4 separate regions of the Homo sapiens genome follow, and regions 2, 3 and 4 are each linked to region 1. The links come from fine-mapping of genetic effects on gene expression. A gene starts in region 1. Each other region holds a variant in brackets. All regions are shown on one strand. Distances are from middle to middle.

Region 1 (7,567 bases):
GTGGTGGGGTGTGTGAGTGTGTGTGAGGATGTGAGTAAGAGAGAATGTATGTGTGTGTGTGTTGGGGGAATCCCTGGGACCGAACTTATTGTAGAAAGGGTGGCATCCTGCCCAGCTGCATTTAGGGGAAGGACCTCTGCCAGCCTAGGGCACATCTGGCTGAGGTGACCCTTGAGCTTGAGAGCAGTACCAGGGGAGCGATGCAGGGAATCCGCAGACTAGAAGACCAGGGTGCACCTCCCCAAACAGCCGGCTGCCTGGAGTGGCTCTTCGGAGCCTGGGTAAACCCCTGGAGATCTGTCCTATTCAAAGGAGGCAGAGAGCCCCCAAAATGATTGAGGTGGGGAATTCCAACCACCGATGGGGTAGAGGTATTAAACTAATTTAGTTTACCAAAATGAAACAAGAGAAAAGGCCGGGAGGTGGGGTGCGGTGGCTCACGCCTGTAATCCTTGCACTCTGGGAGGCTGAGGGGGGCAGATCACCTGAGGCCAAGAGTTCAAGACCAAACATGGCGAAACCCCATCTCTACTAAAAATACAAAAATCAGCTGGGTGTGGTGGCGTGCACCTGTGATCCCAGCTACTCTGGAGGCCGAGACACGATAATCGCTTGAACCCGGGAGGCGGAGCTTGCAGTGAGCTGAGATTGCACCACTGCACTCCAGCCTGGGCGACAGAGTGAGACTCCACCTCAGAAAAATAAAAAACAAGAGAAAACTACAAAATACGTATCCTGACTTGTGCCAAAGCATCTCGGAGCAGCTGCTGCTCTTGCTAGTGCCCTCTGTGGTCCCAACTCCTGGCCGCCACCTGCCCGGGCCTGGGCTGCCGCCTTGCACAGCCATTCTCCTGGCACGGTCAGATGTCTGAGAGTCAACACCATTTAGGAAGGATGACTTTCTCCACCCCTTCTGAGACTAGAAACAAAATGGAAGGGTCATAAGAATGGTGCCAAGCAGCCAAAAGAGCCACTTCCTTTGGGTACCAACAGGTGGCGTGGCGTCATGGCTCCTGTCTTCCCCAAGTGCCTGTGCCCAGCAGCTGCCTCTGCCTGTGCATCTTCTAGGGCGATGCTAATGGCAGATTTCCTGAGAGCCCTGTCCCATCTGCATGGATGGGAAGGACGACATACATTGCTGTTCTTCCTAAGGAAAGTGGCATCCCTCCCAAACCTGGGAACTCGGGTCTCCATGGACCGCACAGACACCTGAGAAAAGGTTTTGCATCAGAGGCTGATGGCAGAGGCTCTACCAGTCCAGCAAGTCACCTGACTGATGTGAAGGGTTCCCCTAGAGCAGGAGGGACATCTGGGCTGAAAACCCTCATGTGAAAAGGCCTGGGCCCCCCAGGCACTCGGCACCTATGAAATGCAACCCCAGCGGGTGGAAAAGCAAGTCCACGATTGCACTCCCCTGCCAGGCTAGGGAGAAATTCTGCTATTGCAGTTCAGGGGCAACACACCCACCCCCGCAGACCTGAGGGTGGCTGCAACTGTCAGCCACACCCAAAGAATGCAGGGCAGGCTCACTGTGGATAAATGTTTATGAAAGAACCACATGGAAATTGAAATATTTGAGATGAGACTGAATGATCTCTAAATCCTAAAAGAGAAAACTAGAGAAACATTAAAGATGAAAGAATAAAATATTCTGTTATAGAAAGCTGTAACCAAAACGGATCACATTAGAACTTACCTCAAGAAAAAGGTGCATTAACAGAATAGTTGTATTGTCACCCAAAAATTACCTGGTCCGCTCCCTGCCTGGGAGGTCAAGGTAAGATGGACTCAATTCCTCTCCTGGTTTCACAGCCTGTAGAAGATGGCTGAAGATTTGGGCTAATTTCGTGAGAGACCTACGTTGCATTTCTTTCTTTTTTTTTTTTTTAGACCAAGTATTGCTCTGTTGTCCAGGCTGCTGGAGTGCAATGGCACGATCTCAGCTCATTGCAACCTCCACCTCCCAGGTACAAGCGATTCTCCTGTCTCAGCCTCCCTAGTAGCTCGGATTACAGGCGTGCGCCACCATACCCAGCTAATTTTTGTATTTTTAGTAGAGACAGGTTTTCACCATGTTGGCCAGGCTGGTCTGGAATTCCTGACCTCAAGCGATCTGCCTGCCTCGGCCTCCCAAAGTGCTAGGATTACAGGCGTGAGCCACTGTGCCCTGCCTTTTTTTCTTTTCTTTTCTTTTCTTTTGAGACGGAGTCTCGCTCTGTCGCCCAGGCTGGAGTGCAGTGGCGACATCTCAGCTCGCTGCAACCTCCGCCTCCTAGGTTCAAGGGATTCTCGTGCCTCAGCCTCCTGAGTAGCTGGGATTACAGGCGCCCACCACCACACCCAGCTAATTTTTGTATGTTTAGTAGAGACGGGGTTTCACCATGTTGGCCATGCTGGTCTCGAACTCCTGACCTCAGGTGATCCGCCCACCTTGGCCTCCAAGTGTTGGGATTACAAGGGTGAGCCACCGCGCCCAGCCCAAGGATTCTTACAGATAGGGCATAGTCTCAGCATCAGACTAATATGGTTATCTTGTTTGCTTTTTTCAAAAAACACCAGCGCCCAGGTAATAAATACAAGGTGAATTTTGTTCCAAGTACATCTAGCCTCTCTCCCCATCTCCAGTCCCTGCTTTAGGATCCGTGGGGAGGGCATGGAAATTCGTTTTGGGTTGTTTACCTGTGACTTCACCCTACTCATCATTCCTACTTACATCAAAAAAGACACAGCAGATACGACTGTGTTTGCAAAGTTCTGCCTTTTGGATAAAGTAGTTTATGCCCATCCTGTGCTTCTCTGAGTTTCTGAGGTCAGGCCAGGAACCAACACTCTCAACCTGCCCAAGGGAATGGGGAGGAAGCCAGCGAAGTTGCCTCAGATCAAGAGGATTTTTAAAAATACTGCAAAAGAAATACGTGCTCACAAATACTCAGCTAAAACCTTCGCAGAGCTGTCAGAGGACAAAGCTTTTGGAGGGAGTGGGTGGAGCTAGAGATTGCACAGCCGCCACCAGCCTACAAAGGTCAAATCTCACACTCTCAGATCCCTAATTCCGAAGAGCCATTTCCTCGGCAGCCCCAGGCTTTGGCCGATCGCTCCCAGATCCCTCCCTCCCCAAACTGCAGGTGCTCCGCGTGTGGGAGTCACGGATGGCCCCAGAGCCCGGGACGTTAAGGCCGAGCGCCCGCGCCTCCGCTTCTCCACAGCCACCTGACGGCCAGGGGCAGGTGGGGGAGCCCAGCCTTCTCCCTGCCCGGGAGACAGCGCGGGAGGGCTGTTGCAGGGGTGGGCAAAGTCCCTCGAGTCCCCGTTCTGGGGCGGGGGCGCGCGCCACTGTCACACTTCAGGCGTCCGCCACGCCGCCAGGTGTGCTCGGCCGACCCGGAAGTAGCGGCACCTCTAGTGCGCTGCGGAGACGTCACCCTGCCGCGGCACAGGGGCGGGAGCGCCTGTGGCTCTGCGCACTTGCGTCATCACGTAGGCTGGCGGGGTCCCGTGATGGGGAGGTGACGTAGGCGACACGGAAGCGGCGGTGGGCGGGGACAGGGAGTTAGCGGAATCTAGCCCCGCCTCTTAAAGCCTCCCAACCCTTTCGGAGTTAGCGCAGCGCGAACGCTGGGTGCGGCGCCTTTAAGCGTCGCGGTGACACGTGTGTGAGGCGCCGGAGGCCCGGATGGTGCGCGTGCTGGGCCGCGGGCCGAAGGAGTCGCCAGGGCTGCGTAGGCTTGTGGCGCGCCCGCGGAGAGGCCGGGGTAGGCTGGGGTCGGGTCGGGGCGGTGCGCAGGCCTGGGGACGAGACCGGGGCGGGGGGTTCCGCGAGGCCTGGGGCGCGGGAAGGGCTGGCGGGCGCAGCCGGGACGCTCAGGGAGAACGTGGGCGCGGGTCCGCGCAGGGCTTCGGCCGTCCCCGAGGAGGACCCGGGATGCTCCGCCCGCTCGCGAGCTCGCTTCTCCAGAGCCCGGGTATTCCCGAGGAGGGTCCGGGGCCGGGCTGTCCTCGCCGGTCTCCGCCGTCCCCCGGGCTCCGGGCCGGTGATGGGGGTCGCCGGGGCCCGCTGTCTGTGCAGGATTCAGGTCAACTTCGGAGAGGTTGAAGTCGGAATCAGGGCGAGGGCGTCGCGTGCGGCCGCAGAGCTCAGCGGGGCGGGTGCGGCCCCGGGGCGGGCACCTTCCTCGTGGTTGCGGAGGAGGCCATGGAGCCCGGGGCGGGGTGCGGTTCCGATGCTGCTGCTTCTGGCGGGTGGCGTGGGGGTCCTGGGCCTGGGGCTGGAGTGGCGGCCGCCAAACCCAGACACACGAGAGGGGAGACTCCGCGCGCCCCCGTTTACGTAACGCTCGCCACGGAGCCATGCTCGGGGAGAGGTGCTCGGGTCGCTGTGTCCGCGGCCGGGCTCGGGGCAGGCGCTGCGGAGTCGCCCGGGAGGCCCCTGGAGCGCGGCGCTGGGCCCCGGGAGGCCGCTGCTTCCGTGGGCTCCTCTCCCCAGCACGTGGTTGACCCTGCGAGCGTCCGTTGCAGTTCATCCTGGAAAAGTGACTTTAGAAGGAGGAGGGAGCGGGAATGAGCCTAAATGGTGCTGGCTGGGGTTCGCGCAGGTGGAAATGTGGATGAGGCCTGTGCTGTCCTTGGACAAGAGAGAGCATCCTTCCTGAGTTGGGTAGAGTGTGGATGGTGTGTGCGTCGGAGGGATTGCTAGTGATTACAGGAACACTTGTCTCGGGCTCCTACACGTCAGAGAGCGAGCGAGCGTTGTTTAGGTTATTGCTTAATGTTTTAGGTGGAATTGGTGAAGTAGAGATTGACCTGTCCCACTTGAAAAATTGTGTTCAAAATCTCTGCATCTACATTAAGGAGTGGGTTAAGTTCAAAGTTACTTATCTCGAGTGAAACTGGGTTACATCTCCCAAGGTTCGTTTATCCCCTCCCTAAGTGGTTCTCAAGCGTTGGTTGTGCATGACAGAGTTCTCACCTTCCAGGGTAGATGTGAGTCCTAACCGAAAGCAGTGATATTGTGGGGAGTTTTTAATACGACTGGATGTCTTCACTTTGTAGATGGCTTTTATTCTGAGATCATTTCCTTACACATTTTTCGGGAGTTGGTATGCTTTTATTTATGGATGAAGTCATAGGTCTGAGATTTGCTGTAGAATTACCTGGGGATGGGAAGTGACTCAGGATGGGTCAGATGTAGTTACTGAGGCTGAATAAGGGGGGCTCATGTGCTCCCTGTGCGGTTCTCCATCTGTGTGTTTGAATGTTTTCACTGTAAACTGTTTTTACGAACCTTAATTTTATGTAATCATAGTGATCGTAGATGGTAATGAAAGAGAAAATCCACACTTAGCAAAGCAAAATTTTGGCAACTCCTATTACTCCCTGAGGTTTGTTGTTGTTGTTATTGAAGTTTTACTGGTTCATTAAATCCAAAACTTGGGGATTTATTACCTCTTACTCTTTGGAAATAAGATTAGACTGGAGCTGACTGGCAGGTGTTGGGGAGGTTTTCCTTCTCTGGGCTTGTCTGGGGTCAAGGTTAAGGTGTTCATATCGTGTGCATTACAACAACTGGTGATGAGGTAGTACGGTCCACCCGCCTCATCCTGAGTGCACGCGTGGATGCTCCTTGGACGGCTTTTTCGTGGTAGAGGGTTCCCGGTGCGCGCCGCATCCCTGGGAAGTAGCTGAAGAGAAGGCACAGGAAGAGTCGCCTCCACTGATGGTCTCCCTGTCCCTCCCACAGGCTCTGACGCCCGCTCTGCGGCTTCGGTGTTTGAACAGGCCACAGTCCAGGAGCGCTTACATTCAGGAGCTCCGCGTAGCACCTGCCCAACCAAACTCAGCCCTCCGTTAAGATCCTGGTTCCATGCCGCAGTAGGACAGCAGGCCCAAGTCTGCACATCCCAGGTGAGTCTGCGAGGCTTCTGTGTATTTTTTGATTCCGTTGAATTGTCTGCATGTGACGCAGCAGTGATTGTTCAGTTGGTGAGAAGTCTTTGATAATTCTCATGAGAAAAGGCTCTTTTATTTTCTCAAATCAGACAACTTATAATGCTTTTTTTTAAATAAGCTTCTGAAATTTCTTTACAGAAGTTTTTTGTTTTTTGTTTTTTTTTTTTTTTGAGACCAAGTCTTGCTCTGTTGCCCAGGCTGGAGTGCAGTGGCGCGATCTCGGCTCACTCCAACCTCTGCCTCCCGTGTTCAAGCAATTCTCTGCCTCAGCCTCCTGCGTAGCTGGGATTACAGGCGCCTGCCACCATGCCTGGCTAGTTTTTTTGTATTTTTAGTAGAGAAACATCTTCGCCAGGCTGGTCTTGAATTCCTGACCTCCTGATCCACCCGTCTCGGCCTCCCAAGTGCTGGGATTACAGGCGTGAGCCACGATTTTTTTTGTTTTAAAGATGGGGTCTCACGATGTTGCCCAGGCTGGACTGCACTGGCTATTCACAGGCGTAATCATAGCTCACTGCAGCCTCAGGCTCCTGCCCTCAAGTTATCCTCCCACCTCAGCCTCCCAAGCATCTGGGACGACAGGCCCAGGCCACTGCACCTGGCTTTTCTTTACAGAAGTTTTTGTAGAAAAAGATACTTGATCCATGTATAGAATTAGATGATCCACAGTGATAAATTTGAATGGCTTAATATGAGGTGCTGGAGGAAGTCCTTACTTTCACTAGAGCAGAATTTTGGGGCACACTTGACTTGTTGATTCTCTGAGGGCAGGCTGGGTACTGAATACCAGAGGAAGTCATCATTTTTCTGATGTGAGTGAGCAATTTAAGGGACATATTTTTGAAATTGTGACTCAGATAGTCTGTGCTGTGTTTGGGAAGGTTAAGTTGAGAGGTGGTGGGTAGGGGAGGGCAAGTGGTGGATACAAAGGTAGCGATTGGAGAGGTGCAGGGGTCTCTTCTTGGTTACAGTTTCCATGCAGCTGCACCAACAGTATCGATCCTCTGTTAGGGACTGTAGTATGTAGCAAGCTCTAAAGCACTTCCCAAGCCTATTATTTTTGTTGCTATTTTACAGTAGAATAGGGGGTTTGGAGAAGTCATAGTAGTTGTCCCTGGGTTTCATAGCTAAGGATGATAGAACCTCCCGGGGCCACCACATTCCAAAGCCTGTGATCTCCCCACTCTCCTGCTTGGCTTTTCTTCTTCTCTTTTGATAAGAGTCCTGGGAAGACATTTGTTTAAGTTTAGGTGTCTAATGGATACTAGTCTCTAGGCCTGCTACTTGCTTTTCTTCTCCTTCCTCACTTTTAAAAAGATAATTTGTACTCCAAGCACTGTGTAATGGAGATTAATACAAGCCACAAATATAATTTAAAATTTTATAGTAGCCACATTAAAAAGAAGCAGGTGAAATTCATTTTCATAATTTATTTAACTCAATATATATAAAATATTACCATTTCAACAGGTAACTGATCTAAAAATTACTGGGATGTTTTACATTCTCTTCTTATACTAGTGAGTATTTCTCTTCAAAATCTGGTGTGCATTTTACACTTATAGCACCTCTCAACCTGGACTAGCCTCATTTCACATGCTCAGTAGCCACGTGTGGCCTG
Region 2 (7,567 bases), 23 kb after region 1:
TGGCCAAAGCCCTGCTGAGAGTCTGCCTCCCTGCTGGGTCTCGGTCTTGGGAGCTGGGAGTGCCTCTGCCAGGCCCCACCTGCTCCACTGCCTCTGTTCTGTTGCAGTGAAGTGCTCCGTGTGCAAGAGCGTCTCGGACACCTACGACCCCTACTTGGACGTCGCGCTGGAGATCCGGGTACAGATCTGTCCTGCCCTTCACTTTTGCAGTAGGAGAGCGAGGCCAGAGGGTGAAACAGAACCCGCAGAACAGTAAAGGCATCAGATCAAAATAGATAGGGAGAAAACTCCTTTGCTCCCTGCCGCCTTGCAGTACAGACCATTGTCTTTACCTGTTTTTTTCTAGAGTTTTTCCTAAGCGTATCCTTTTATTTAAAGAAAAAAATGGTAAAATTGGGTTTTGTGTCCTGAAGCATGAACAGGAACAACGCTGTCCCCAGGGCTTGAGGAGAGTCTGTTGTGTGCTCTGGGCGGCGTGCAGCCTTTGGAGCTTGGTGGCTCTGTGGGCCTCACCTGGGAGAGCAGCCTTGGCTTTGTCGCACATCCTGCTGCAGCTACAGGGTGCGGGAGGGTGGTCTGCCTTTGCTGGGCCAACCCAAGCTCCAGAGCAGGTCCAGCTACAAGATCATCCTGATAAAAGTGACTGATTCATGGCAGACCTGCAGCTGTCATTTCTTTGCTTTGCTTTTTTTTTATAGGGGCTTGAGGGACAGGGTCTTGCTCTGTGGCCCAGGCAGGAGTGCAGTGGCGCAATCATAGCTCACTGTAGTGTTGACCTCTAGGCTTAAGTGATCCTCCCACACAGCTGGTACTACAGGCATGCACCACCACGCCTGGCTAATTTTTTAAATTTCTTTGCAGAGACAGGGGTCTTGCTATGTTGCCCAGGCTTGTCTCAAACTCCTGGCCTCAATGATCCTCCTGCCCCGGCCTCCCAAGGTGCTGGGATTATAGGCGTGAGCCGCTGTTCCTGGCTGCTTTCATTTCTTGTCTCTGGAGAAGGAGTCCCAATCTGGCAGCTAGTGGGCAAATTTTTATGCGAGTCTAAGTTCTGTGATTTGCTGCCTCAGCCTAAAAAAGACCTTAAATTTGGCATTTCTTGAATCAGCCTTTTTCCTCTGCTGTGTATTTTACTCCCTGTTTTTGTCCTCCTCAGCAAGCTGCGAATATTGTGCGTGCTCTGGAACTTTTTGTGAAAGCAGATGTCCTGAGTGGAGAGAATGCCTACATGTGTGCTAAGTAAGTTTCACGTTGCTTGTGGCAGAAGACTGATACCAGACGGGAAATAAGTCCCCTCACCTGACAGTGTTGTGCCCACCCACTCTTCCTTAGCGGTGACCGCTGCTCGCATTTCTTGAGGAACCTATGTGTGTCCTAAAAACTCAAACTTCTAAATAACACGAATGAAGCAATAGCTATGATTTTTATAGCTACAGTTTACACCATACCTGTTCTAAAGATGCCGCATATATTGTGCAGTAGGGGCTGTGGTTTCCCATTGCTAGGGATGGTGAAACTGAGGCACAGAGAAGTGAAGTGACCAGCCATGGGGCCACACCAAGAGGACGTGGCAGAGCACGAGCTCACATCAGTTCACACTGGCTGGCACCGGGCGGCCGCCCCAGGGACTGTGCCCAACCAGCTGCTCTCTTGCCTCTTAAGGAGTGTTTTCTTTGGCTTTCATTTTTTACTTAACTGGTTTTGGACATTTTTCCGTTTCTGCAGATAGAACTCTTACTTTGTCATTTGTTGCATTTTTAGTAGTGACAGGGTTTCACCTTGTTGGCCAGGCTGGTCTCGAACTCCTGAACTCAGGTGATCTTCCTGCCTTGCCTCCCAAAGTGCTGGGATCACACTACTACAGCCGGCTGAATATCTTTATATCTAGGTCCTTGTAAAGCTGTAGGCACTAAAGAATATATTCTTAATTCTGCTTTACTCTTCTTTAGGTCTGTTTCCTGCAGCTCTCCAAGCTGCGCGCCTCTGCTTCTGTTTTCTCTCCCTGTGTTTGCGCATCTTCTAGCTTTGCTTACGTTGACTTCCTGCCTGCCCGTTTTATCACTCAGCCACATCTGCTTTAATTTGCTCTTTCCTGTGTTGGCCCAAAGCAACTTTTTCCTGTATTTTATTTAGTTTCCTGGTGGGTACAGTACTTTTATTTTTTTGCTTTAGAATCTTCCCACTTTCTGTAGTCTTATTTCCCTGTGGTAGCTTTCCTTTACTTGAGGCATGCTTAATGTGATTTTGAGAGGAGCAGAAGGTCGAAATCTCATTGATGAAGATTCCACTATTACAGAGCAGTTGTTGCTGTTATTAACTTAGCGTTAAGACAACATTTTTCAGAGCACGAATCAATCATTCATTAATCTTTCTCATCACCTTCTTCATAGATGCAAGAAGAAGGTTCCAGCCAGCAAGCGCTTCACCATCCACAGAACATCCAACGTCTTAACCCTTTCCCTCAAGCGCTTTGCCAACTTCAGCGGGGGGAAGATCACCAAGGTGAGCGCTCGTGACACCATCCCAGGCAGCTCCGTGGGCCACAGTCGGCATCAGAATAACACGAAGAAAGTGATAGCCACGAGTTTGATAGCTGCTGTTTACACAGTACCTGTCCCTGTTCTAAAGGTTCTACACATATTGTGAAGTAGGGACTGTAGTTTCGCCCTTGTCCAGGACGGGAAGACAGTCACAGAGAGGGGAAGCAACCTGGGACGCCTTTTAAAAATAGACGTTTCTGGGTTTATCCCAGTGCCAGTGAATTTGAATCTCTGGAGGACAGGGCCCAGGAATCTGCATTTTTGCAAAATCCCTGAATGCTTGTTATACACAGTCAAGTTCCAGGGCCACTGTCTTAATGGATTTACCGCAGCTTCTGGTTGTGCTTGGGCTGGTCCTGGCAGGGACTTTCAGGGTTCTCCAGATGAGTGTGATGAGCACTGGGCGGTGGGACTTGCATTGTCCATGTCCTTTTGATGTCTAGAACAGGTGCCGTTGCATGCTCTGGCTTTTTATGAAATATGGAGTTTAGAAAAACTACTTTTGACACGATGGTATTTTATTGTTTAAATTTCATTTTGTTTTAAGACAGGGTCTCACTCTGTCACCTGGGCTGGAGTGCAGTGGCATAATCAGCGCTCACTACAGTCTTGACCTCCCAAGCTCAAGCGATCCCCCTGCCTTAGCCTCCTGAGTAGCTGGGACTGTGGGCACATGCCACCATGCCTGGTTAATTTTTTAAAAAGTTTTTTGTAGAGACAGCATCTTGCTGTGTTGCCCAGGGTGGTCTCAAACTCCTGGGCTCAAGTGACCTGCATGCCTTGACCTCTCACAGTGCTGGGATTACAGGTGTGAGCCACCATACCTGGCCTATAGTGGCATTTTCATAGAAGATGTGTTTCTTTTTTCTTTTTTCTCTTTTTTTTTTTTTTGAGACAGAGTCTTGCTCTGATGCCCAGGCTGGATTGCAGTGGCGCTGTCTCCACCTTCTGGGTTCAAGTGATTCTCCTGCATCAGCCTCCAGAGTAGTTGGGATTAAGGCGCCCACCACCACACCTGGCTAATTTTTGTATTTTTAGTAGAGATGGGGTTTTGCCATGGTGGCCAGGCTGGTCTCGAACTCCTGAGCTCAGGTGATCCGCCTGCCTCAGCCTCCTAAAGTGCTGGGATAACAGGCATGAGCCACCGTGCCCAGTAGATGTCTGTATCTCATAAAAATCTAGAGTTCTGTTCTGAGAGCCTGGTTATGTGGTTTGGAATGACACCCTTGGCTGAGCCTCCGTTTCCTCACTGGTAGTGGTGGGGGCTTGCTTAGGTCAGCATTTCTCAAATGTGTTTGCAGATTCTTAATGTCGTAGACTCAGGTGTC[G/A]TGTAACCACAAGGGCATGTTTTAAGAAATGTGTCACCAGGCAATTCTGTCACTGTGTGAACATCATAGAGTGCATTTACACAGACGTAGATGACGGAGCCAGCTGTATGGTATAGCCCATTGCTCCTAGGCCACAAACCTACACAGCCTGTTCCTGTCCTGAATACTGTAGGCAGTTGCAACACAATGGGAAGTATTTGTGTATCTAAACATAGAGAAGGTACAGTGAAAATGCAGTATTATAATCTTATGGGATCGCTGTTGTATATGTGGTCTGTCATTGACCAAAACATGTTATGTGGCACATGACTGATGGTATGTGACGTTTAAGAACAGGCAAAATTAATGGTGACAGAAATCAGAACAGTGAATATTTGAGATGGGGGCAATGACTGGGATGTGGGAATTTTCTAGTTGATGTTCTGCATGTCCATCAGTATATACTTGTCAAAACTCTTTGATCTATATACTGAAGATCTATGCATTTCAACAAATCCCACAACTCAGTTTAAAAAAATGATTTAGGCTGGGCACAATGGCTCACAACTCTAATGTCAGCACTTAGGGAGGCTGAGGTGGGAGGATTGCTTGAGACTGGGAGTTTAAGACCAGCTTGGGCAACATAGTGAGACCCTGTCTCTACAAAAAAATTTTGGTTTTTTTGTTTTTTTTTTTGAGACGGAGTCTTACTCTGTCACCCAGGCTAGAGTGCAGTGGCACCATCTCAGCTCACTGCAATATCTGCCTCCCAAGTTCAAGCGATTCTCCTGCCTCAGCCTCCCAAGTAGCTGGGACCACAAATGTGTGCCACCATGCTTGGCTAAATTTTGTATTTTTAGTAGAGACGGGGTTCCACCATGTTGGCCAGGCTGGTCTTGAACTCCTGACCTCAAGTGATCCACCCACCTCGGCCTCCCAAAGTGTTGGGATTATAGGTGTGAGCCATCATGCCCGGCCTAAAAAATTTTTATTAATTGGCCAGTCATGGTGGCGCGTGCCTATAGTCCCAGCTACTTGGGAGGTAGAGATAGGAGGATTGCTTGAGTCCAGGAGTTTGAAGTTACAGTGAGCTATGAATGTACCACTGCACTCTAGCCTGGGTGACAGAGCGAGACTGTGTTTCTTAAAAAAAAAAAAAAAAATTATGCGTATGTTTTTCGGAGTTCCTAAACACACGTCTGTATATGACCCAGAATAATGGCAATCCTGTCATGTGGGCTCTGTGCTGTCCTGGTGCACTCAGCCTACAGCTGCCATGCCAGGCACTATTACTGCTAAGAATATATGTGTGTGCATGTATGTATATATGTGTGTGCACGTATTATATGTGTGTGTATGTATATGTGTGTGCATGCATGTGTGTATATGTGTGTGTATGTGTGCGTATGCATGTGTGCGTGCATGTATGTGTTGTGCATGTATGTATATGCGTACATGTGTATGCATGCATATGTGTGTGTGTATGTATATATGTGTGCATGTGTGTATACGATGTATGTATGCATGTATGTATATATGTGTGCATGTATTTTATGCGTGCATGTATGCATATATGTATGCATGTTATGTATATGTGTGCGTGTATTTTTTTCTATGAAAAATTGGTCAGTTTTGGGAAGACATTTTAGCATGACCTTTCTTCTGATCCAGTTGATTAAAAGTCTTACTTGCGGTAGCAGTTGGCTATATTAATTCAGCACTTTTATTTCTGAAGATCTAAAACCCAGCATTCTCTCCCTTTTCTCCCACCAACAATGTTCCTGTAAAGTGGAGGGAAAGAAAATGAGTGACCCTTCTCATTTGATCGTTAGGAACCAGGTGGTGAGAGAACTAATGGAGATGCTTGACAAAGACAAGAACAGATCCTGCATTGCTTGATGGGACAATAAAGTTTCCCATAGGCTGGCTGGAGAAGACTCACTTCTCAGCATCTTGGTGTTTTTTCTTTGTTTGTTTGTTTTGATTGTTTTGAGATGGAGTCTCGCTCTGTTGCGAGGCTGGAGTGCAGTGGTATGATCTCGGCTCACTGTAACCTCCACCTCCTGGTTTCAAGCGATTCTCCTGCCTCAGCCTCCTGAGTAGCTGGAACTACAGGCACGTGCCACCACGCCTGGCTAATTTTTGTATTTTTAGTAGAGACAAGGTTTCGCCATCTTGGCCACGATGGTCTCAATCTCTTGACCTTGTGATCTACCCGCCTCGGCCTCCCAAAGTGCTGGGATTACAGGCGTGAGCCACCGCACCTGGCCAGCATCTTGGTTTTTAATCATTGCCTGGGGGAGCTCCTGCACAGCGTTGCTGCACACCCATTCGCCCCAAATTGTCTTTTTCTTGTTTGTGGCGGGGCAGTTTTGAGACAGTCTCGCTCTGTCGCCCAGGCTGAGTGCAGTGGCTCGATCTCGGCTCACTGCAACCTCTGCCTCGCGGGTTCAAGTGATTCTTGTTCCTCAGCCTCCTGAGTAGCTGGGATTACAGGCAGTGCACCACCATGCCCAGCTAATTTTTTGTATTTTTATTAGAAGTGGGGTTTCGCTATATTGGTCAGGCTGATCTCGAACTCCTCGAGGTGATCCCCCTGCCTCAGCCTCCCAAAGTGCTGGGATTACAGGCGTGAGCCACTGTGCCCGGCCCCCAAATTGTTAAAGACCAGACAAGCTGGGCATTTTGTGTGGTTGTGGATGGAAAGGGCAAATTGATCTTTACTCTCAAAGTGAATTTTATTTGTCTTTTCCTTGATTTTTCAAACAGGATGTAGGCTATCCGGAATTCCTCAACATACGTCCGTATATGTCCCAGAATAATGGTGATCCTGTCATGTATGGACTCTATGCTGTCCTGGTGCACTCGGGCTACAGCTGCCATGCCGGGCACTATTACTGCTACGTGAAGGTGAGAGGCTTGTGTCAGTGCAGCTGCCTCCTGGGACAGGTTTCAGCACCCATGCACATCCAGATGCGGCCTCTGTAGAGCACTTACTTTGTGAAAAGTGTGATGTTTTGTGGTTGTATTCAAGTCCTCGTTGTTGCCTCTCTGCGTGGAGTGAAAAGATGCCCTTTACAGAAGTGTTGCACCAGAATCTAGTGTTCTCAGACTTGCAGGGAGACACGGAAGAGGCAGCCGCTTCTGGTGCCATCCTTAGAACCCTGGCAAAATCGGCCATGGTGATGACACTGCCTGAATGTCCTTTAGAAGGGACAGTTCCTATCTGTTGGGGCACTAGGAAGGAACTGGGACGCAGAGCACACTTTGGGGTCACATTCCGAGTTATGAAAATATTACACGTTTTAATAGAAGTTGTTACCTGTTGATTATTAATAGTGTTTGGAAATGTAGCAACTAACAGATTTTTTATTCCCTTTTTAAAAAGTGAGGATAATGGGATGCTTGTTGATTGTTTTGTTTTCTGCAACATCCTTGGCTGCTTCAGGCAAGCAATGGACAGTGGTACCAGATGAATGATTCCTTGGTCCATTCCAGCAACGTCAAGGTGGTTCTGAACCAGCAGGCCTACGTGCTGTTCTATCTGCGGTAATAAACTCACGCCCTCCCCAGATGAGCTCACTCCCTCTGCTCTTTTCTTATACCGGTGGGCCTCCCTAACCTTTTTTTGTTTGAAGGTAATTGGGAATTCCACTGGAGGGATTTGTCATGTGTCATAGAGACCGTCCACAGGGAAGGACACTTTTTAGTAAAGCCAGA
Region 3 (7,567 bases), 720 kb before region 1:
GGAACTTCAGGACAAACCAGGCCTTCTTGCTCCCCCCGCCCGCTCTGCTGCTGCGCAGGGGCCAGGCGGAGGCAGTGGGCGAGTGCTGGCTGGCACAGGGCCTCATCTCCAGGTTTTCATCTGAGCTGTGATTTCCCTAGGCAGGTGGGAGGCAGGCGTCCAGCAGAGCCGTGCTCTGCAGAGGGGAAAAAATCCCAGCACAGCTCTGTCGAGTCTTTCCTGCTGGATTCCTGGGGTGGGTACGAGCCCCTTACCTGGGCCCCGTGGACTCATTGATCATCATGTCATTAGGGTCCCTGCTCCTTTTATCTGGAGCTGGGAGGAGAAGGTTGTATGTGGCAGGCAGCAGGGTTCTGGCCCCTACCCCGATTCCCTTATCTCCAGCCGGGGCCGGGGCCCACCCTCCATGGACTTTCTCTGGCGCCCCCAGACACCGAAGCGGCAGCAGCAACAGCCCGGGTGGTACTTCGTGCTGGATGTGTATTTTCAGAAGCTGCGGGGGACGTCATGTGTATAAAATTAGCATTGCCTTGTTGGCCCCTTTCAGACTAATTCGGAGTGAAATGTTTTAGCAATGGTGGGCTGATTCTATCAGGAGAACAAGAACTAATTAAATTCCCTCTGACCATCAAGCAGTAAATTATTTATATCCAGACAGATGCAATCTAATCTCTAGCATCCAGCGAAACCCAACATGCATGCTACTTGATTTTTCAAGGGGAGAGGAAGAAAAAAAGACAAGGCTCAAGTACTCAAGAGAGGAGATGGACGGCGGAGAGAGCCACAGGACTCTGGCCCTAGAGGCACTCAGCTCCGTGTGTGGATGGGGAAGCCGCCGACTCGGGTGAGGGCTCAGGACTTCCATTCCCGGTTCCCAGTAGTCTCAGCCGGCATGCTATTCCTTGCAGGCAGGAATAAAGAAAAAAGGAGTCCACGAACCATTCTACAAGGCTTTGTTTAACACAATCTCAGCTGTTTAGGGGGAGAATTAATTTCACTAATGAATTTGCTAATGCATGTCACAGACGTACTGGTCTGCCCCTTTTGGTGGCCTTTGGTGGCTGCTGAGTGGCTGCCAGCTTGCATTTTGGAATGGAGTGATTAGCTTGTCCCCATGAGGTGAGCTGTGTGGGCCGCTGCCCATCTCTTCTGCTGCCCACCCAGCAGTGGGACTCATAGCACCATGCATGGGAAGCCCAATGTCCCTCCCCCTGATGCCAGGGATGACATCTTTGCTGGGCGTTCCTGCCCGTCCCCACCAGACACAGGTGTGGACGGGAGCCTGAGCCTGCTTTGGGTCTAAGTCCCTACCCTCATGTGCCCCTCTCTTGGGAAGAGGTGAGGGCTGCCCTCAGGACGCTGGTTGCTGCTCTGTGACTCGGGCCGGGATGAAGGGAGGGCTCCTTTTGCAGAGTTTGCTGTGAGGACACCTGCTTCAGTGCCCAGCTGGGTGGTGCTTGCCTCGAGGGGTCTGCATACACTGGGCACTCACTGCTGTCACCAACACGCACCGCTTTTCAGTTTCAGCGGTGACATCGGCTGATGGAAAGGCGCTGACCCAGTGGCCTCGTGGAGCTGGGGTGTGGGGTCAGCCTCGTTCGTGTGTCTCTGGGGACTCCTGAGTTTGGCGACCCTTGCTCTCTGTCATCTGAATCTGCAGTGGTGGTCTCTGCTCACCCTTAATCCTTGGGGGTGACTGGAGCAGAGGGAGGTCTAGGATTTGGAGAGCCTGGGGAAGGGCTGACTGTCCAGCGTTTCTTCCTGGAAGCTGGGCTTGCCGGCTGCTCAGCCCTGGCAAGGCTGGGCTCTATTTCTGGCACCCCTGACACTCCCTTTGAACCCTTGGAGCACGGTGGTGAACTTAAGCCCCCAGGGGCATACATGGTAGTGACTTTTTTAAAATGGCAAAAGGACCCTTTGCAAAGCAGTCACCTTACTAAGTTCTAAGCATCTGTTCCAAATCTCTAAAGATTTTGAGACTCCTCTTTTGGACTCACTGTAGTGCAAGGTCTATTTGTTTGAATTGTGAACACATCCTCCTTTGAGGGTGCAGCTGATTGTGGGAGAGGCCAGGCGCCCCCAGCTCTGTCTGGTGGGGAGCCTGGCCCATAGAGTTGGCTGGGGTCCAAATGCTGGCTTCACTTCTTATTACACACGTGGTCTTGGACAAGTTATTGAATCCCCATGAGCTTCCGTTTCCCCAACTGTGAAATGGGACCAAGCATCCTTCCTACCCCCTGGGGCAGCTGAGAAAAGGAGAGGACGCAGGTGAAGTCCTCCGCATGCCACCCAGTGACAGGCTGAAGCTCGGGAAGCACCTGCAGCTGCAGCTCTCGCGCTGGCCGTGCTGTCATGGGTGGGGAAGTGGGTGGGGGCATCTGTGGATGGAGACTGAACGGCTTCCCGCCACGAGTGTTCTGGCTGTGGTGAGGTGAGGTTGCTGTGACAGCACTGGCTGGCAGGCTTAGATGTGGGGAGTTGGTGCTGGAACATAAGTCACTGAACCCCATGATCCCTGGAGTGCGTATTCTTCAATGTTCCTGGACACGCCATGGTCGGGTGGGCAGTAGCTGCTCATTAGGTGCCCACCGTCCTGGTAAACATAAAAATGAAATTGCTGTTTCTTGAGTACCTGTTCTGACTGGTCCTGAGGCTACAGTCAAGGAGAAGTAAAGTGGTTGCCCTCTCACACCTTCCGCCAGCAGGACAGGGAGGGCACTTCATTTGCAGTGGGATGGCGAATGAAGCATGAATACCTGCATGGGTTCTCTGCTCTGCAGTTCGCAAAGTATCCCTGTGTATGTGAGAGCTGGGCATTCTTAGGCTTTTCGGGTCTCCCTCAGCCTTTCCCTGTGCTTTGCTCTGGCTCGGTGACCACCCAGCAACCATTTCAGCCCAGTCACTTCTACACTCAGTCTTTTGGGGCTGGGATGGAGATTGACGGTGGGTGGGGGAGGCTGTTACTTTGGACCTGATTTTCTAGGAGTTGCTGAAGATGCAACGGGGTGTCACAAGATCCATCCACCCACCACCCACCCACCCACCTATTCATCCACCCACCCATTCATTCATCCATACACCCACCCACCCATCCTTCCACCCATCCACTGTTCACCATCCACCCATCCATCTATCCACCCATTCATTCACCACCGACCATCCACCTACCCACCCACCCATCTATTCATCCACTCACCCACCCACCCATCCACCTACCCACCATCCACTATTCACCATCTACCCATCCATCCATCCACCCATTCATTCACCACCTAACATCCACCCACCCATCTGTTCATCCATCCACCCACCTACCCATCCATCCACTATTCACCATCCACCCATCCATCCATCTACCCATTCATTCACCCATCCATCCACCACCCATCATCCACCCATCCATCCACCCACCGACCCACTCATCCATCCACCCACCCACCCATCCATCCACCCATCCACTATTCACCATCCACCCATCCATCCATCTACCTATTCACTCATCACTCTCCATCCACCCCCCCACCCACTCACCCATCTGTCCACCCACCATTCATCTATCCACCCATCCACCTATTCACCATCCACTATCCACCCATACAAAATCCACCACCTACCCATCCATCATGCAGTATCCATCAGTCACCATCCACCTACCCATCTACTATCCACCCATCCACCACCCACCACTTACCATTCACCCATTCACTTATCCACCCATCCATCCAATCATCCATCCCATCCACCCATTCACTATCCACCATCCACCTCAACTGCCACTCACCTATCTACCATCCAC[C/T]ACCCACTCACCACCCACCATGACCCACCATTTGCCATCTACCCATCCATCCATTCTATAAATAATTAGTAAGCACTTAATGCATGCTAGGTATTATTTTAGGCACCAGTAAGACAATCATGGGAAAAAAAGACAGACAACCCCCGCCCCTCCCATCCTCAGGGAGCTCTATTCCAGTGAGAACAATTAATGTGCTAGATTGTGAGGTCATCAGTGCTGCTGCCCGTGTAAGACTGAGGTTCCCAGGCCCGAGACCAGCCTGGCCAGGGCTCCCAGGGTCTCCTGGTGGGGACTCTCAGGAGTCCAGCTGCTGCCCCTCAGCTGAGCACCTGGCATGGACAATGCCTGGTAAATGCTTGCTATGTGAGGGCACCTGCCCACGTTGAATCCACACAGCCTCTGGGCCACAGGGGTCCTGCTCCTTAGCAAGCCTCTCTGTGCCCTCCATGCTGGCCCTGCATCCCCTGGCACACCCCCCACCATTGTCAATGTCCTTCTTGTGCAGCTGGCCTCGGTCCCTCCTCTCTCCCTCCTGCTCCCCGCAGGCCCACGCAGCCTCCGCGCACTGTGGGTGGTGAGAATATGTGGTTAACAGGTTGACTAACCCAATCCCCGCAAGGCAGGGGAAGGCTGCTCCAGTAAATTTCCAAATGTGTCCGGGCTGACAATTTTGGTTTCCTCTCAAGCAGTGAGTGCATGGAGCCCGGCCGGGAGGGAAGTGTTCAGGGGCCCGAAGCCACCTTGGAGGGCTGGTCCTGACTGTGGTCTTGCCTCCCTCCTGGGCAGCCGGGAAGTGTGGGCCCTGGTGTTTCTGCTTTGGAAGATCCTCCCCATCCGCCAGCACCCTGGGGCCCTCAGCCCCGCCCCTCAGCTGCCCCCAGCCGGTCTCTGCGCCTGGACCCTCCGGACGGTTCCCTGCTGTCTGCCAGTCACCAGACACTGGGTTGGCTCTCATGCACACAGGGCGGGAGATCCTGGCTCTCACTCTCTCTGTGTTAGCAAATATTTTTCTGAACTCCAATTTTCCTTCCTGCTCCTGCGCCAGGCCCCTCAGAGCAAAGGCGGCCACCCAGGTAGATCCCTGGGCCTGGGCCACGTGGCCCTCTCAGCTCCTCTGAGGGTATGTCTTTCCTGCCCCCAAACAGTGAACAAAACACAAATCACCCTCCCCGTGTGACATCACAAGCTGGTCTGCGATGGACCTCGTGATGATCTGAGTCTGTCCCCTCTCCCTGCTTCCTGGGTTTCCTCGGCTCAGAAAATAGCAGTTTCAGGCTGCTTTTTTCTCCTCTTAGATTTGAGTGTTTGTAATTTTTCTTCAAGCTGAATCTCAATTTACTTGGGAGCTACTTATCTTCCCTCCAGGTCTCCTCTGTCTCCCGGCCGTCCCCTTGCCCCAGCAAACAACCGCAGCGCCACCCCCTGCGTCCTCGGCAGGTTTTGCTCGTGACCTGTCTGTTGTCTTCCAGATCATTAGCTTGGATATTAAACAAAACTGGGGCCTTGCAGTGGCCCAGGAGGCCTCCCACGAGATGCCCCCGCCTGCCCGATACGCTGACATCTGCCGTTAGCCTTTGTTTATGGCTGTCCAGCCTCCCTCAGCCTGTGCCTGTGTTGATACCAGAGCCAATCTAGTCCAATTTCACACAGAACATTTCTTCAGACTCGTTTCTTCGGCCTCACCAACAGCCGCTAATTTGGTGGCACCTATGAAAATGGGCTGGGGATCCGCAGCTGTCACTTGGTCCTTGCCACTCTTCCCCCCTTTCCCCCCACCACCGCCGGGCTCCCACGGCCCCAGACGTGGTCTCTTTGGAAATGTTCCATCATCTCAGAGACTGCAGCTGTGGGATGGGGGCTTGGCTGTGAGTAGACTGGACTTGGGTTTTCTCGGGGTTTGGAGGGTGGCCCTTGTTGGCTTCTCCATGGCTGGGTGGGTGGGCAGGGGTAACAGACCAGATAGAGACTAACAGTCCAGGGCCTGGGGCCACACTGCCTGGATTGGAATTCCAGGCTACCTGCTCATTCTCTGGGCAATTTCTTTCCTTTCCTTTCCTTTTTTTTTTTTTTTTTTTTTTTTGAGACAGTGTCTCACTCTGTCACCCAGGCTGGAGTGCAGTGGTGCGACCTCGGCTCATTGCAACCTCTGCCTCCTGCTTCAGCCTCCCGAGTAGCTGGGATTACAGGTGTCCACCACCATGCCTGGCTAATTTTTATATTTTTTGGTAAAGATGGAGTTTCACCATGTTGCCCAGGCTGGTCTTGAACTCCTGACCTCAAATGATCCACCATCCTCGGCCTCCCAAAGTGCTGGAATTATAGGCATGAGCCACCATGACTAGCCTTGTCAGTTTCTCAGTAGAGTTCTTTGGGGACCATGGAGACAGACGTGGAAAGCCCTGAGCACCAGCTGGACACAGGGTGAACCCCTGGGCAGCAGCAACCCCTGCTAGTGAGGAGTCCTTGATTCTGTCCCCTTCCCCACGCTCCCCTTCGGTGGACTCTGTGCCTCCAGAAAGTCCCTCCCTTCCTAGGAATTTTGCCATCTCAAGACGTTGATAGATGTGCTGCCTTCTCAGATATTTGCTTATTTTGCCTTTTGCCAGTAAATATTTTGCCCGTCTTTTCTTCCTAGTTCATATATTTTCATTACTGACAAAGTTATTAAATTAGTTCGAGTCTTTTAAGTAGCCGTTAATTTCACATCAGCCCTAATTTGTGTACTTGATTTCCTCTCCCCACCCACTCTGGATGTGGTTACAGCTCCTCCTCCTGTCGCTCATTTGTGTTAAAATCAACACTTCCTCCCCAACAGCTCCCTGTAAGCCTTCCTGTGGGCGGCCTGGGCAGAGCTACCTCCATCAACCCTGTTTCCAGCATGGTCTGTCCCCTCCTCGGCCCTTCAAATGCTTTACGGAGCCACACGGGCACTCCTCCTCCTGCCACCGAATGGAACTGCTGTCTATTTTGCCTTATGTCCTGACGTCCCCTTCCTGTATTCATTTCTTTGGGTTCCCAGGACCTAAGCCAGTGCCCTGCCCAGAGTAAGTGCTCACTGGTGTTTGAGGGGTCAGCAGGGAGGGAGGAGTGGAGACCAGCTTGGTTTGGAAAACTTGGTCTTCTCTAGGCCTGGCTGGTAGCAGGTGTGAGACCTTGGGTAAACTGCTCTCCTGATCCTGGTCTTTGCTTCCCCGTCTGTAAAGTGGAGGAATTGCGTCTGGATGATTGCAAGTATGCTTTCCCGCTCTGACATTCTAGAATCTTCCATTTCTTTTGCTCTGTGGGCATTGATTCATCTTTCCAATGGGGCCTGTCTTCACTGTATGGTATTGGGTTTTGGTGACATTGTTGTAGTTGGAGTTCTGGGATAATGTAATTGTTGTCATTGTTGCCAACACCATTGCTGCTGCCACTGCCTTCTACCACCACCATCACCACTATCATCATCATCACCACCGTTACCATCACCACCATCATTACTATCATCATCGTCACCATCACCACCGTCATCACCATCACTGCCATTATCACCATTACCATCGCCATCACCACCACCACTACTATCATAATCACCATCACTGCCATCATCACCATTGCCACCACTATCACCACCATCACCACCATCATGACTATCATCACCATCACCACCACCACCACCACCATCACTGACATAATCACCATTACCACCACCACCGCCATCACCACCATTATCATTGTCATCATCATCATCACTACCACCACAACTACCATCATCACCACCATCACCACCAC
Region 4 (7,567 bases), 80 kb after region 1:
CCTAGCACTCTGGGAGGCTGAGGTGGGTGGATCATGAAGTCAAGAGATAGAGACCATCCTGGCAAAAATTAGCTGGGCGTGGTGGGGTGCGCCCGTAGTCCCAGCTACTCAGGAGGCTGAGGCAGGAGAATTGCTTGAACCCAGGAGGCGGAGGTTTCATTGAGCCGAGATAGTGCCACTGCACTCCAGCCTGGACAACAGAGCAAGACTGTGTCTTAAAAAAAAAAAAAAAAGACATTTAGATGGAAATATTATTTTATGGTATTAGTTGTGAGCTTATAAAAAGAAGAAAATGATTATTCTATGTTTTGTTTTTTCTTTGAGACAGACTCTCGCTCTGTCACCCAGGCTGGAGTGCAGTGATGGGATCTTGGCTCACTGCAACCTCTGCCTCCCGGGTTCAAGCGATTCTCCTGCCTGAGCCTCCCGAGTAGCTGGGACTGCAGGCGCACACCACTGTGCCTGGCTAATTTTTTTATTTTTGGTAGAGACAGGGTTTGGCCATGTTGGCCAGACTGGTCTCAAACTCCTGACCTCAAGTGATGTGCCTATCTCAGCCTTCCAAAGTGTTGGGATTACAGGCGTGAGCCACTGCGCCTGGCCTATTCTATGTTTGAAAGATGAGTGTAGCAAATAAATTCTTTAAGAGGAGGCTAGCATACTTTCCCCCTTATCCATGGTTTCACCTTCCATGGTTTCAATTATCTGCAGTTAGCTGTGGTTTGAAAATATGTGAGTATAGTACAAGGAAATATTTTGAGAGACTACATTCACGTAACTCTTATTACAGCATATTTTATAGAACAACTTATTGTTCTTTATTATTTATTATAATGTTCTTTATTATTAGTTTATTATTAATCTCTGCCTACTTTATAAATTTTATCATAGGTATGTATGTATAGGAACAAACATGTTGTATATAGGGTTCACTACTATTTGTGGTCTAGGCATCCGTGGGGGGTCTTGGAAAGTATCCCCTGTGGATAAGGAGGGACTACTCTATAACCTACAGTAAGGTGATTTGTGGTGTGAATCCACTTTATTCTAGGAAGTATTAAGGTGTTTGACAAATGTGTATATAAATGTGTGTATCTTGAGAGGGATTAAAAGTCTTTTTTTTTTTTTTGGCACGGCCTCGGCTCACTGCAACCTCTGCCTCCTAGGTTTAAGCGATTCTCCTGCCTCAGCCTCCCAAGTAGCTGGGACTACAGGCATATGCCACCACTCCTGGCTAATTTTGTATTTTTAGTAGAGACAGGGTTTTACCACGTTGGCCAGGCTGGTCTCGAACCCCTGACCTCAGGTGATCCACATACCTCTTCCTCCCAAAGTGCTGGGATTACAGGCGTGAGCCACCGTGCCTGGCCAAAAGTCTTTTTTTGAGATTAAAAACATCCAGAAAGCAGCCGGACGGACATTTCCATTGTATTAGTTTCCTGTTGCTGCCATAACAAATTATCACAAATTTAGTGGCTTAAGACAATATACATTATTATCTTACAGTTTGGAGGCCAGAAGTCTGGAATGGGTCTCACTGGGCCAAAATGTATTTCAGCAGGGTTGTGTTTCTTTCTGGAGGCTCTAGGGAAAGATCTACTTCCTTACCTTTCCAGCTTCTAAAGGCTGCCCACACTCCTTGGCTCTTAGCTCCTTCCTGCATCTTCAAAGCCAGCAGTGGCTGATTGAGTCTCACCTCTCATCACTCTGACACTGATTGTCCTGCCTCCCTCTTCCATTTGGAAGAATCCGTGTGCCCACTTGGATACTCTAGGATAATCTCCCTCTTCTAAAGTTGGCTGATTAGGAGATGTAATTCCATCTGCAATCTTAATCCCCTTTTGCCATGGAATTTAACATGTTCACAGGTTCCAGTGATTAGGACATGTATATCTTTGGGACCATTATCCTGCCGACTACATCTATACATCTACCTTAGTGCCTTTGCCCATGGAATGTTTCTTGTGAGAATGGGCAGTTTAATCCTTCCTGCATATCATTTTCTTCTTATGGAAGTGTGCCTCATGGGTATTAAGTATTGCAGTACTTTGTAGACTTTGTCTGACTTCGTGAAGCATTTCTAGTTTTAGAAGAGTGCTCCTAATTCAAAGGTAGGGGAAGGCATGTGCAAAAAAGCCGCCCTTTCCACTCTATATTCTGCTGATCAGCAACACTATTTGTCATCAAATTACCGGAACAGAGACTATCTTGAGTCAGAAGGTTATGTTGTTGCTCTCTGTTCTTAGGAATGTTTTTGTACTCTGAGAGTAAAGATAATTTTTCCTGTTGTCAGGTAATGGAAATGTCCCTGAACAATGGACCTTGATAGGAAAAAGAAGTTTATTATTCTAGAAGATGTTGGCACAACATTATTTGGTAATTATTTTTCCAGAAATCTGCTGTTTTCCCCCATGTCACATGATGGACACCTCATTGTATGGAGGAAGCAGGCCAGATGCTGTTACTCTTTCAAACGTTTATGTTAAAGGCTCATTTGGTTTAATTTCCACTCAGAATAGATGTTAAGGATACAAAACCAAATGTCTAGCTGACTACTACTGTTCTTTCCCTTTCCTGCTCTTGCTTTGGACTACTGTTTTCTCAAACGTATAAATGTGTGTGTATAGCATTCTAATAAGAGGAATTTAAGCTTTAAAAAGTTTTTAAAAATAACACTCTTTTTTTTTTGTTTTTGAGACGGAGTCTCGCTCTGTCCCCCAGGCTGGAGTGCAGTGGCGTGATCTCGTCTCACTGCAAGCTCCGCCTCCCGGGTTCACGTCATTCTCCTGCCTCAGCCTCCCAAGTAGCTGGGACTACAGGTGCCCGCCACCACGCCCGGCTGATTTTTTGTGTTTTTAGTAGAGACGGGGTTTCACCGTGTTAGCCAGGCTGGTCTGGATCTCCTGATCTCGTGATCCGCCCGCCTCGGCCTCCCAAAGTGTTGGGATTACAGGCGTGAGCCACCGCGCCTGGCCCCTGCCTCTTGATTTTTAAAGAGGTTTTAATAAGCTTTGAGTAGTGTGAGTGCTTTTAGTTCCCTGTATTATCACGTTCCCAAGGTCAATTGATTTTAACACAAAAATAGGTTACACATCACCCCATTCCAGCCTAGAGCAGGACTAGAAAAAGCAGTTCCTGTGAGAATTAGTTCCCCTTGGAGATCTGAAACTTGAAATCTGAAAACAAGAACCTCTTGAGTTGGGACTCAGAAGGTGGG[G/T]AACTGCTGTTGTGTACCAGAATGTGTGCACAAGGGTGTTTATTGTAGCATTGCTATGTGACTGAAAACTTGGAAATCGCGAGGCTGGGCGCGGTGGCTCACACCTGTAATCCAGCACTTTGGGAGGCCGAGGTGGGTGGATCACAAGGTCGGGAGTTCGAGACCAGCCTGACCAACATGTTGAAACTCTGTCTCTACAAAAAATACAAAAATTAGCCGGGTGTGGTGGTGCATGCCTGTAGTCCCAGCTACTCAGGAGGCTGAGGCAGGAGAATCACTTGAACCCGGGAGGTGGGTATCCCATTTATCAAGAAAATATATAGAGACTGTCTCTGACTTATGGTTGACTTTACGATGGGTTTATTGGGAAGTAACCCCATTGTAAGTTGAGGAGCATCTGGGATATATTTTGATTTTGAGAAGTGATGTCATCAGACTTACTTGATACCTGTAACTTTTAGAAAGATAAGTATATGATGCTTTTTGTGTAAAATTACTTTTTCACTTCTATTTAAAAGTCTTAAGTTCTGTTGTAATGCGATTTTTGATTTTCTAGTGTTTAGAAAAGAGGGTTTTAAGATAGTAGAATGTTGTTGCTTTCTTTTAAACTATATATATACATATATATACATATATATGTATGTGTATATATATATACATATATATATACATATATATGTATGTATATATATATATACATATATATACATATATATGTATATATATATACATACATATATATACATATATATATGTATGTATATATATATACATATATATATGTATGTGTATATATATATATATACACATATATATATGTATGTGTGTGTATATATATATATATATATATATATATATAAACCTGCTATTTGGATAGAGGCCAGAATTAAAACATCAGTAGTCAAAAGAGGGAATTCAGTGTTTCTTGAGTTTTTAGCTTTATATGTCTAAATTTGTAAAATTCAACCATGTATTTTCCGTTCCACATGGGCACCTTTTGCAATTGTGGTAGCAGATGTCCTAGGCAGATGAACATGCAGAAGTGGTTTGTTTAGCCTTCCCTTTTAAAGTTCGTAATCTAGTAAATTTGGGTTAGAATGGTGGTTCCCATACTTGACTAACCCGCAGAATCCCTGGAGGAATCTTTCAAAAAAGCCATTTATTCTGGTTCCTTACTCTAGCCATACCAAACGTACCAGGGCAGATCCAGGAATGAGTGAATGAATAAATACGTACATACATGCACATGCTTGTACACACATGCACACAAATATACTTCTAATGCCCCTAAATTTGGGGACCCCAGGTGTGGAAACTCACGCTTCAGAACCTCTAACTGTTCTCTCCAAGGTCACATCACACAGGCAGGCTCTGGCTTGAGTTGGCCTGGCCAGAGATGCTTCCCTTCATTTCCCGTGTTGAGTGTATAAAATGATTTCACAAGAATTTGTGCGTCCATGATTGTAGGAAGGGATGGCTGAGTGTTGAATGCATTTCCTCAGCTGTAACTATCTAATTTATGTGGTTTTGCTTTAAGCCATTCAGTATTCCGCTTGGAGGGTTTTGAACTTACAGAGGTTTTTAAGAAGAGGCTCAACAGATGAAAGAAGCAAGAATAACCAACCTTGGATTTTTGTTTTTACTCCTTTATTATAGCTACCAAGTATATAGCTACCTACCCACTTTAGCTTCCCCATGTGTCTTTGTGTGGTTTTCTGTTTTGTTCCTTTTAAGAGATACCGTCTCTTTATGTTGCAGCTGTTGCTAGGCAGCCAGTGGCCAGGTGCCAGTTTTAGAGCCCTGATCTGTACAACAGTGAGGAAGCAACCTAAAAAGACCCCTTTGCCTACCCCGTTGGATGAAAGAGAGGCTTGGCGCTGGGATGTAGACTGCTAGGCGCATGAGACCTACGAAGAACTGAGGCTGCGTCCACTTACCCAGAGTGTCTTTGGAGAGTACCTTTTAGTCCTTCCTCGGGGCAGTTGCCATATAGTCTGAAAATGAAGCCACCTCAGGCAGTGGGCTTCGATTGGCTACAATTGTGCCCTTCTTACTTTAGCACTTTGGCAAACATTGAGAAAATTATTATTATGGAAATTTTCTTTCTGTTTTGAGACAGGATCTCACTCTGTTGACCAGGCTGGAGTGCAGTGGTGTTGTCATAGCCCACTGCAACCTCGATCTCCTATGCTTAAGCAATCCTCCCACCTCAGCTTCCTGAGTAGCTAGGGCCACAAGCACATGCCATAACTCCGTGGATGCCGAAAGTAGATAACGAGACCTACTGGATCAGAATGAGGCAGATTAGTACACATCGCACAGCAAATAGCAGGAATATCAGCATGAAAGTGCTGGTGCCCCTGACCTCAAGTCTCGTGGGGTGACATGATGGGCCCAGATGATGTCTATGCATGAATTGGGTTTGCCTACAGCTGAGGAACCAAGGACCACCAAGGACTTAGCACTTTCCTTTCTTTTTTTCTTTCTTTTTTGTTTTTTTGAGATGGAGTTTCGAGTTTCACTCTTGTTGCCCAGGCTGGAATACAATGGTGCAATCTCGGCCCACTGCAACCTCCTCCGCCTCCTGGGTTCAAGCAATTCTCTTGCCTCAGCCTAGCGAGTAGCTGGGATTACAGGCATGCACCACCATGCCCGGCTAATTTTTTATTTTTAGTAGAGACGGGGTTTCTCCATGTTTGTCAGGCTGGTCTCGAACTCCTGACCTCGGGTGATCTGCCTGCCTCGGCCTCCCAAAGTGCTGGGATTACAGGCGTGAGCCACCACACCGGGCCTGGGCTTAGCACTTTTTATAGCAAGTGATAGACAGGCCAGGCTTCTTCTCCTCAATGGGGGCATGTCATGCTACAGTCTCCTTGACCAACTTCATGTCGCCAGCTACAAGAAGACAGACCTTGCAGTTTGGCACTCTCAGCAAGGACATGCAGGGATGCTTGGGGCCTCGGCCAAAGGCAGCATGATATAGATGGAGCATAGTTTAATTAATCATCCTGTCTTGTTATTTAGAAGTTTCCACTTTGTTCCTGTAAGAAAGAATCCTGTAACATTCTTGTGGATAAAGTTTTGCTCACATTTCCAGTGATTTTCTTAGGCTAGATTCCTGTAAGTGGACTTACTGGGTTAGGGAGTTTAACTTTGTAGTCTCTTGATATGTACTGCCAAATGGGTTTTCAGAAAGTGTGAATCAGTTTACACCTCATACCAGTATATGATGATACTTGTTAATTTATCCTTCCTGACATTGAATTACTATTTTTTTAAACTTTTTTTTGAATTTTTTTTTTTGAGGCAGAGTCTTGCTCTGTCACCCATGCTGGAGTGCAGTGGTGCGATCTTGGCTCACTGCAACCTCCACCTCCCTGGTTCAAGCAATTCCCCTGCCTCAGCCTCCCAAGTAGCCATGCCTGGCTAATTTTTTTTGTATTTTTAGTAGAGAAGGGGTTTCACCATGTTGGCCGGACTGGTCTTAAACTCCTGACCTCAGGCAGTCTGCCCGCCTCAGCCTCCCAAAGTGCTGAGATTCAGGCATGAGCTACTGCACCCGGCTGAATATTTTTTTAATCTTTTGGGTTGCTGATATAATTAAAATTTTTTCCTGCCTCTCTCAGCATTGGCAGAATGAACTTTGTTCTAAGAACCTCGGCTAGTGTTTACATGTATTAGAATGGGAAAATTATAGCAGCTTCTTTCCCAGGTCGTTTTTTATTCATCTATTCAACAGATACTTATTGAACACCTATAATGAGCTGGACACTCTATGGGCCTTGCAATTTAGACATGAATAGAGTTCTCAGGTACCTTACATTCTAATTAGAAGGAGAACTTTGACCTCTAACCAAGACCTGTTTAATTCATAGGAGGGTTTCTTTTCTTTTTTTTAAACTGCACTCACGGTCATCCCCCCAAAGGATGAGGGTTTCTTAAGTTATGTTGAAAATTCAAACCTTGAGTCCGGGCATGGTGGCTCACGCCTGTAATCCCAGCACTTTGGGAGGCCAAGGCAGGTGGATCACGAGGTCAGGAGATCAAAACCATCCTGGCTAACACAGTGAAACCTTGTCTCTACTAAAAGTATGAAAAAATTAGCTGGGTATGGTGGCGGGCGTCTGTAGTCCCATCTACTCAGGAGGCTGAGGCAGGAGAATGGCGTGAACCCAGGAAGCCTGGGCGACAGAGCGAGACTCCATCTCAAAAAAAAAAAAAAAAAAGAAAAAAAAGAAAAAAATTCAAACCTTGAAATTCCGCCTTGTGAATAATCTTAGTCTAATTTTTGCCATGTTTATTGGAATATAGGCCAGTGGTTGAACTTTGTGTTCCTAACCTCTCAGCATC

The links. PIP is the estimated chance that this variant, and not a neighbour inherited with it, causes the effect.
Region 2: its variant is the best candidate, but not a certain one, in a credible set for the expression of USP36 in whole blood (TOPMed, PIP 0.57).
Region 3: its variant is the best candidate, but not a certain one, in a credible set for the expression of USP36 in uterus (GTEx, PIP 0.60).
Region 4: its variant is the best candidate, but not a certain one, in a credible set for the expression of USP36 in esophagus mucosa (GTEx, PIP 0.79).

Annotation. Positions count from the first base shown.
Region 1 is chr17:78,836,921-78,844,487 of GRCh38, reverse strand. USP36 (ubiquitin specific peptidase 36) reads left to right here and starts at 3,674. Exons shown (of 21, transcript NM_001385174.1): 1 at 3,674-3,752; 2 at 5,738-5,901. It overlaps LOC124904067 (a long non-coding RNA gene), which reads right to left and starts at 3,374. Exons shown (of 2, transcript XR_007065923.1): 1 at 1-3,374. RefSeq lists silencers at 3,187-3,286, 3,747-4,266 and enhancers at 3,407-3,596, 5,191-5,705, 5,706-6,220.
Region 2 is chr17:78,813,602-78,821,168 of GRCh38, reverse strand. USP36 (ubiquitin specific peptidase 36) reads left to right here. Exons shown (of 21, transcript NM_001385174.1): 8 at 108-178; 9 at 1,157-1,239; 10 at 2,391-2,502; 11 at 6,617-6,757; 12 at 7,296-7,396. Among named protein-coding and RNA genes, the nearest start is that of USP36, 23 kb to the left of the region's middle. The variant G/A (reference allele first, on the strand shown) is at 3,869.
Region 3 is chr17:79,555,535-79,563,101 of GRCh38, reverse strand. All of the region lies in intron 1 of RBFOX3 (RNA binding fox-1 homolog 3), which reads left to right. Among named protein-coding and RNA genes, the nearest start is that of RBFOX3, 52 kb to the left of the region's middle. The variant C/T (reference allele first, on the strand shown) is at 3,797.
Region 4 is chr17:78,756,865-78,764,431 of GRCh38, reverse strand. The region is part of intron 1 of CYTH1 (cytohesin 1); the gene reads left to right. Among named protein-coding and RNA genes, the nearest start is that of CYTH1, 22 kb to the left of the region's middle. The variant G/T (reference allele first, on the strand shown) is at 3,218.